Homo sapiens: one gene and its partner. The protein of the gene in region 1 purifies or fractionates together with the protein of each later gene. This does not show direct contact. Each region holds a gene or a part of one and is shown on either strand. Other genes may lie near its edges.

The links.
Region 2: the proteins of NUP210 (region 1) and SMYD4 purify together in Homo sapiens (affinity purification with mass spectrometry; one large-scale study listed by BioGRID and IntAct). This does not show direct contact.

What each region holds. Positions count from the first base shown.
Region 1 is NC_000003.12:13,417,328-13,421,752, reverse strand, and holds the start of NUP210 (nuclear pore membrane glycoprotein 210 precursor), read left to right. Parts: upstream 1-1,430; 5' UTR 1,431-1,526; coding exon 1,527-1,693; intron 1,694-4,425. UniProt on the Homo sapiens protein: Nucleoporin essential for nuclear pore assembly and fusion, nuclear pore spacing, as well as structural integrity.
Region 2 is NC_000017.11:1,819,672-1,823,478, forward strand, and holds part of SMYD4 (protein-lysine N-methyltransferase SMYD4), read right to left. Parts: intron 1-3,807. UniProt on the Homo sapiens protein: Protein-lysine N-methyltransferase. Monomethylates PRMT5, modulating its transcriptional activity. May also act as a histone methyltransferase. Plays a critical role in cardiac development.

The DNA of each region.
Region 1 (4,425 bases):
TTGAGCCTAAGTTTCAACCATCTGTCTGGATTACCTGTTGGAAAACAAATCAATCTTGTGCAACCCAGAAGACACCCACAGACTTCCTCACAAATACCCTCTGAGGCTGCCTTTTCCGCGCAAGTCTGTTTTTTGTTTCTTCAAAGGGAGCCCGTTGGAATTCCCCTCCCAGAGCACCTGGTTCCACACAGGGCCGACCCTCACCCCCTTAGTTCTGGTTATCTCCAGAGATTTCCCCCAACACACACATTCCCTGGTCTAGGGCCCTCAGGCTTCGAGGGTGACCCCAAACACCCCGCATCACCATCCAAAAGCCCCATGATCCCTGAGGGGCAGGCTCAGCCTATGCGGGCCTCGCTGAAGCCCAGTGCGGTGTCTATGCCCAACCCAGGGGCCGCCGCCTCCAAAAAGCCTTCCTAGCCTTACTGACATTTATCCTCTCCTTCCTGGTCACCCAGTGGCATCGTTGTGTGTCTTCCTGGTTACAGTCAGCATCCACTTCCTGCACTCCTCAGACAGCCGGCCAGTGCACCCTCACCCCACCCTTTCCTGACCTCCCGCTAGGCTGGGCCTTCTCTGCAAGGCTAGATTCATATTTTAGCGGCACCAAGCAGTCAGGTGCCTGCTGACGCATGCCTTCATGCAATTCACGACAGACAGCTAAAAGCCACAGAGCACAGCGCGGAATCTAAGGCCTTCCATTGGTGTGCAGGTGGATTCCGCGGTGCTAAACTTTCTTTTGTGGGTGTGGGGGCCGTGGAGGGGGTTGTGCTCTGGCAGCGTTGGCGCCCTAAATGACCTATAGGTAACCTCTAATGGCTTCCGCAGGGGGTGCAGTGCGGAGGACAAGAGCTTGGGGCTCTCTGGCTGAGTGATCTGGGGGCCATTCAACCGGTTTTTTCCTGGAGAAATGGGAATCTTAAGGCCTCTCTGGAAAGGGTGTGAGGGGGTCGAGGGGGAGCGGGCCCCGGGCCTTCAGCGCTTCAGCAGGTGGCTTCCCTTTGCGAGCCCGGGGTCCCTCTTCTGGGAAGCATGGGCTGGGACAAGGCAGGCGCCGGTTTTCTGCATCCCAAATGTCCTGGGGCATGTGTCCCTTCCTTGCTGACCGTGGGTCCGGGCCAGAGCGCAAGGTCCAAAGCCGGCGGCTTGGCTCCACCGCCAGGGGCAAATACCAGGGCGGGATGCGTGCTGCGGGGCGCCCCGGGGGCTCCCCCTTGGGACTTCTAGGGTCCAGGGGTCCCCGCGGGCGCGCCCCAAGCCTTCTCCCTCAGCTCCGGGGGCCCGGGCGCGCGCCCATCCCCCAGCCCCGCGTCCCTGCGCGAGGGCCGGGCTGGGGGTGGGGTCGCCGCGAGCTCGGCCCCCAGAGTTCCCGCGCTCAGGCCCAGGAAGCGGCGGCCGCCGACGGCCCTCGCCCCGCCCCCGCGCTCATCACCTGCTGGCCTGGCGCGCGCGCGGGCGGGAGCGGAGGGCAACGGGGCGGCGCGGGCGGCCGGGCGCAGGGTCGCGGGAGGTGACGCGCGGCGAGGATGGCGGCGCGGGGCCGGGGGCTGCTGCTGCTGACGCTGTCGGTGCTGTTGGCGGCGGGCCCCTCCGCCGCTGCGGCCAAGCTCAACATCCCCAAAGTGCTGCTGCCCTTCACGCGGGCCACGCGCGTTAACTTCACGCTGGAGGCCTCGGAGGGCTGCTACCGCTGGTGAGGCGCGCGGCCGGGCCGGGCGGGCGCCGTGGGCCGGGCTGGGCCTTCGCGCTGAGAGGCTGGGCGGGCGCCGGGAGGCCGGCAGAGCCGGCAGGTGCGCGGCGCGCTCTCGCTGGGCGCTAGGCTGCAGCACTCGGAGCGGCGGGTGCGCGTGGGTCGCCACCACTGCTCATGTCATGGCGCCGTCCGGGCCTCCGCGCCGCTGAGGCGCGAGCAGAGCGGGCGCAGCCTGGCGGCCGTGACCCGCGTGTTCTGGGTTGTGCGGGAGGAGGGGTGGCCTGGGGAGCGGCGTCTGGGACCGCAGGGCCCAAGCCGGCCGGGCCCGAGCCGGCCTGACCCGGGAGGGGGCGCCGGGGCAGCTGGGCCGCACTTCCCTTGAGTCTGGGACCCCAGCTCGGGTTTGTCTGTGACCGCCCTCGCCCTGGCGTGGGAAGTGAGTCTGTGAAACGAAGCGCAGCGCCTAGCGTCGCGGGGAGGAACGGAGACCCTGGAGGAAAGGAGTTTTGGAGGGAAGCCCAGGGGCCGCTTTACAGAGGCGAAGTGAGACGAGGCAGGCCGGCGCTTCCCCTCAGGCTGCCTCGGCGCGGGTCCTGATGCTCAGGGCATTTCCATCACCCTCCCTCTCGGGTTGGGAGTTCTCCAAGGGGTCGGATGCGGAGTGTGACCCTGTGGAACCACAGGGACCCATGAAACCAGAGACCGACACTGACAGGGCGGTGCAGTCCAGCCCTTCCATTTTGCAGACCAGGGGAAATGGAGCTCCTGCCCCTGGCAAGGCTGCGTGGGCACGACTGAGCGCCCTTAGCTTCCCAGCCCAGCCGTCCTAGGGGTGAAAAGATGGGCTTCCGCCCTTCCCACCCCCAGGATGCTCAGTAGTTGCTCCCTTTATTTCTGTTTCAAGACTGGGTCAAGGTTGAGGCAGAACGGGGTGTGACCACGTGACAGCCATGTGTGTAAGCCTGGACATGTGTGTGTCAAGCCTGTTTGAGTATTAGTCTGTGCGTGTATGTAAGTGTGATGCCCGAAGCTCAGACCAGCCAGCTTTCTCTGTTGCTTGCACTATTTGCCCTATTTCTTTCTTTCTTTTTTTTTTTTTTTTTTTTTTTTTGAGACGGAGTTTTGCTTTGTCGTCCATGCTGACGTGCAGTGGTGCGATTTCGGCTCACTGCAACCTCCACCTCCCGGGTTCAAGCGATTCTCCCGCCTCGTAGCTGGGATTACAGGTGCAGGCCACCTGGCTAATTTTGTTTGTTTGTTTGTTTGTTTTTAGAGTGCACTCCAGCCCTTGTTGCCCAGGCTGGAGTGCAATGGCGCGATCTCTGTCCACTGCAACTTCCGCCTCCCCGGTTCAAGCGATTCTCCTGCCTCAGCCTCCCGAGTAGCTGGGATTACAGGCGCCCGCCACAACACCCAGCTAGTTTTTTGCATTTTAGTAGAGACGGGGTTTCACTATGTTGGCCAGGCTGGTCTCAAACTCTGGATTCACTGTGTTGGCCAGGCTGGTCTTGAACTCCTCAAGACCAAGGAGAACTCCTCAAGCGATCCACCTGCCTCAGCTTCCCAAAATGCTGAGATTACAGGCGTGAGCCACCATGCCTGGCTTGTCTGGCCAATTTTTGTATTTTTAGTAAAGATGGGGTTTCACTATGTTGGTCAGGCTGGTCTCGAACTCCTGACCTCAAGTGATCCCGCCGCCTCTGCCTCCCAAAGTGCTGGGATTACAGGCGTGAGCCACTGCACCCGGCCTGCCCTATTTCTTTTTTGAAGGTCTCCTTCCTGAAATCAAGACGTACTAGGTCAGCCCATTGCATTTTGGTTTTAGTGCTTTATGCACCTGGAGGCTCCTATTTCTGGCCTGATGCCAGAGGCTGAACTTGGGCATTAGGTTTTCTGTATCCCAGTCTAAGGCCTAGTCTTGTGTGGGAAAATCAGCTGTTAGTCAATACTGTGGCGGGGATACATGCTCATTCTCTTGTTGAAGCTGTCTGTCCTCTCAGTATGTGGGCAAGAAAGAGGAAACTGGTTATTAAAAACAGCTGGCTTCAAGTGAATCCCTTTGGATATATTTGTGTGTTACTTTCTCTGAGATTCTATAGCTGTACTTTTTTCTTTTTCTAAACTAACAACACTTTTTTCCCCCCCAACATCATTTTCTTTTCTGAGAGGAGCTGAAGGGTGTTGGTGGATTTTAATTTACTTGGTAGGAAAAAGGGAAAAAACATTCTTAATCTCTGATGCATCAGAGAAGTGCTAAGTACCTTATAACGTGTTTGGCGTTGATCTGTAGTTTGTATTGCAGATGTGTGACTGCAGATGTGTGACTGCTATTCAAAGTGTCTTCTCAGAGGTGTTTGGAAATTGTGATTCCCCCTTAACTTGACAGGAAGACATTCTGTCAATCAAGCATTGAGAATATTTTCTTTATTTTTAGTATTGCTGTTCCTAGTGTAGTCGTCTATTGCTGCAGTTTTGAAGAATCTGCTCTGGAGATTTTAAGAGCTGGCCTATAGACATATATCCACAGTCCTCTAAACCTGGGAGGAACATTACCTCTTCATCCAGAAAGTTCATTGTTAAGTCTCTCAGACGAAAAAGAAAATGAGAATTCTGCCAGACCCTGTGGGAACATTTGCACATCCATTGAATTTGCAGCTGAGCTCTAAGTTTACAGAAATCACTGTGTGTGCCTGAGCCAACAGCTTCATGTTTACTTTTCCTATTTTTTTTAT
Region 2 (3,807 bases), on another chromosome or scaffold:
CTACCATTATTTCTAAATTTATTAGCTGGCAATCTTTGGTAAAGACAAACTTTCTCCTTTTCCTTCTTTTACTTGTTTCATGTGAGCAATATTTACACAGACATAATATGTATTTACTTATTTTTGTTTGTTTTGAGACAGAGTCTCACTCTGTTTCCCAGGCTGGAGTGCAGTGGCACGATCCTGGTTCACTGCAACCTTCGCCTCTGGGGTTCAAGCAATTCTTCTGCCTCAGCCTCCCAAGTACCTGGGATTACAGGCACCTGACACCACGCCCAGCTAATTTTTGCATTTTTAGTAGAGATGGGGTTTTGCCATGTTGGCCAGGCTGGTCTCAAACTCCTGAGCTCAGGTGATCCACCTGCCTTGGCTTCCCAAAGGGCTGGGATTACAGGCATGAGCCACCATGCCCGGCCAAAAGTCAATTAAGAAAGTAAACTCGGATATTTAGAGTACCACCATGGACTTAAACAATTTATTATCATAAACTATTATCACCATTATACTTTTTCATGGTCAAATTATGCTAATATTGGCCAGTGACAACCTCTTCAGACTGGTTCCTATGTTCTTTTTTGTTGTTTTTGATCCAGGGTCTTGCTCTGTTGCCCAGGCTGGAGGACAGTGGTACCATCATAGCTCACGACAGCCTCGACATCCTGGGCTCAAGCAATTTTCCCACCTCAGCCTCCCAAATAGCTATGGCTACAGGCATGTGACACCATGCCCAGCTAACTTTTTATGTTTTTGTGGAGACACAGTCTCACTATGTTGCCCAGGCTGGTCTCAAACTCCTGGGCTCCAGCGATCCTCTTGCCTAAGCCTCCCAAAGTGTTGGGATTACAGGTGTGAATGGGGTCACCATACCTGGCCTACGCTCTTTTTTATATAAATCTATTAGTCTTCGAGCACGTCCTTGTTTTCTGACACAGGTTATTCCAGTTGAATCAGCACAAAATAAAAACAAACAATAAGCCTGTGAATGTGGATAGTGAAGCTATTAAGAATTTCCTACAACACTCTGGGAGATTATTAATTGCAGGAGTGGAGAGGTAGGGGTGGACAGTGGGAGGTCGTGTGTCTCAAAAGGTTTTCAATAGATGAAAGGCATCTCTTGTGGGAAAACATTCCTCAAAGAATGTCTATTGGCAAGAAAGAAAAGTGTGTGCTTGGCTTTAAACTTTAAAGGGCCAGTTCCTATTTTTACCTAACAGGCATGCATGTGGAGATCAGAAGTTTAAATCTTTTTTGGTTACTTTAGATTGTGATGGAACAGAATTACAAATAGCTCTTTGAGCTAACTTGTTTTTAAGGAGAGAGGTCTGGGTATGAATTAGTGAGAGACATACAGAGCAAACAAAAATGGAGGTGATTTATTAACCCCAGGGGAAACGAGAGCAGTACAAGAAAGGAAATGTAATTCAAAGCATCCTTCACGGTTCATGTGAACAAGACTCACACAGACATAAGAATGTATGCATTGAATGTTGGTTCAATCAATTTAATACTCTATTGGTTATATAACAGTTATCATGAGGGAATGAGGGAAAAACAAAGTATAGGCCGGGCAAGGGGGTTCACGCCTGTCATCCCAGCACTTTGGGAGGCCGAGGAGGGTGGATCACATGAGGTTAGGAGTTTGAGACCAGCCTGACCAATATGGAGAAGTCCCGTCTCTACTAAAAATACAAAATTAGCTGGGCGCGGTGGTGCATGCCTGTAATCCCAGCTACTCGGGAGGTGGAGGCAGGAGAATCGCTTCAACCCAGGAGGCGGAGGCTGCTGTGAGCCAAGACGGCACTATTGCACTCCAGGCTGGGTGACAAGAGCGAAACTCTGTCTCAAAAAAACAAAAACAAAAAACAAAGTATATACCTGTGAGTTGGGAAGAAGAGAGCAAAATTACATCTAAAATTATACAAACTCAAGAAAGAGCAGTATTTGCAATGTTTAGAAATAATAAATTACGTGTCAGAAGGCTGGGCACAGTGGCTCACACCTGTAATCCCAGCACTTTGGGAGACCAAGGTGGGCAGATCACCTGAGGTTGGGAGTTTGAGACCAGCCTGGCCAACATGGTGAAACCCCATCTCTACTAAATATACAAAAATTAGCTGGGTGTGATGGCACACACCTGTAATCCTAGCTACTTGGGTGGCTGAGGCATGAGAATCGCTTGAACCTGGGAGGCAGAGGTTGCAGTGAGCCCAGATCGTGCCATTGCACTCCAGCCTGGGTGGCAGAGTGAGATTCTGTCTCAAAAAAAAAAAAGGTCTGGTGTGATGGCTCATGCCTGTAACCCCAGCACTTTGGGAGGCTGAGGCGGGTGGATCCCTTGAGGTCAGGAGTTTGAGACTAGCCTGGCCAACATGGTGAAACCCTGTCTCTACTAAAAATATAAAAATTATATATTTTAGGCATATATAGTAGTGCATGCCTGTAATCCCAGCTACTCGGGAGACTGAGGCAAGATAATCACTTGAACCTGGGAGGCAGAGGTTGCAGTGAACAGAGATCGCGCCACTGCACTCCAGCCTGGGTAACAGAGTGAGACTCTGACTCAACCTGTTAAAAAAAAAATTAAATGCCAGAAGAAACAGTTAATTTAAAGTAGCTGTCTCTGGGGAATAAGAATCAGGAATGGGGAAGAGTGGACAGGGAGTTGCTGTTTTTCCTGATAAGTTTTGAAGCACTATTTGATTTCTTAAAGTATGTATGCATATTATTCTGATAAAAAATTAAACTAAGGAAGGAAAATATTTTCACTAAGGCATCTGGTCTACATAGTTTTACAGAATTTTTCTACTAGCCTTTAAGAAGCACATAATTCCTACATTATATAAGCTATTTCAGAGCACAGAAAAAGGCGGGAAGCTCTCCAATTCATTCTGAGGCTACCATAACCCACCATGGTATCAGCTGGGATTACAGGTGCCCGCCACCATGGCCAGTTAATTTTTTGTATTTTTAGTAGAGACAGGGTTTCATTCACCACGTTGCCCAGGCTGGTCTTGAACTCCTGACCTCAGGTGATCCACCCGCCTTGGGCTCCCAACATGCTGGGATTACAGGTGTGAGCCACTGCACCCGGTCAGATGATTTAAAAACTCTTACCTTTTATTTACACCACCAATCACCAATTAGAGAATGTAATTGGGGGGAAAAGCCTTATTCACAATAACAACAAAAACCTTACAAGAAGAATAAATCGAACATGAAATGTGTAAGACCTATATAAAGAAAACTATAAAACTTTACTTAAGGACATAGAAGAAGCCTTAAAGAAATGGACATACCCTTTATTTGGATTAGGAAATTTAATATTGTAAAGATGTCAGGTCTCCTTAAGTGAATCTATAAATCCAACACATTCCCAATCAAAAGCCCAACAACATTTTTTATAGAACTTGAGAAGCTGGCCGGGCACGGTGGCTCACGCCTGTAATCCCAGCACTTTGGGAGGCTGAGGCGGGTGGATCATGAGGTCAGGAGATCAAGACCATCCTGGCTAACGTGGTGAAACTCCATCTCTACTAAAAATACAAAAAAAAAAAAAAAGATAATAAAATAAAATTAGCTGGGCGTGGTGGCAGGCGCCTGTAGTCCCAGCTACTCGAGAGGCTGAGGCAGGAGAATGGCATGAACCCAGGAGGCAGAGCTTGCAGTGAGCCGAGATCACGCCACTGCACTCTAGCTTGGGTGACAGAGCGAGACTCCGTCTCAAAAAAAAAAAAAAAAAAAAAAAAAGAACTTGACAAGCCAATTCTAAAGTTCACATGGGGGAAATGCACACAAAATACCCAAGAT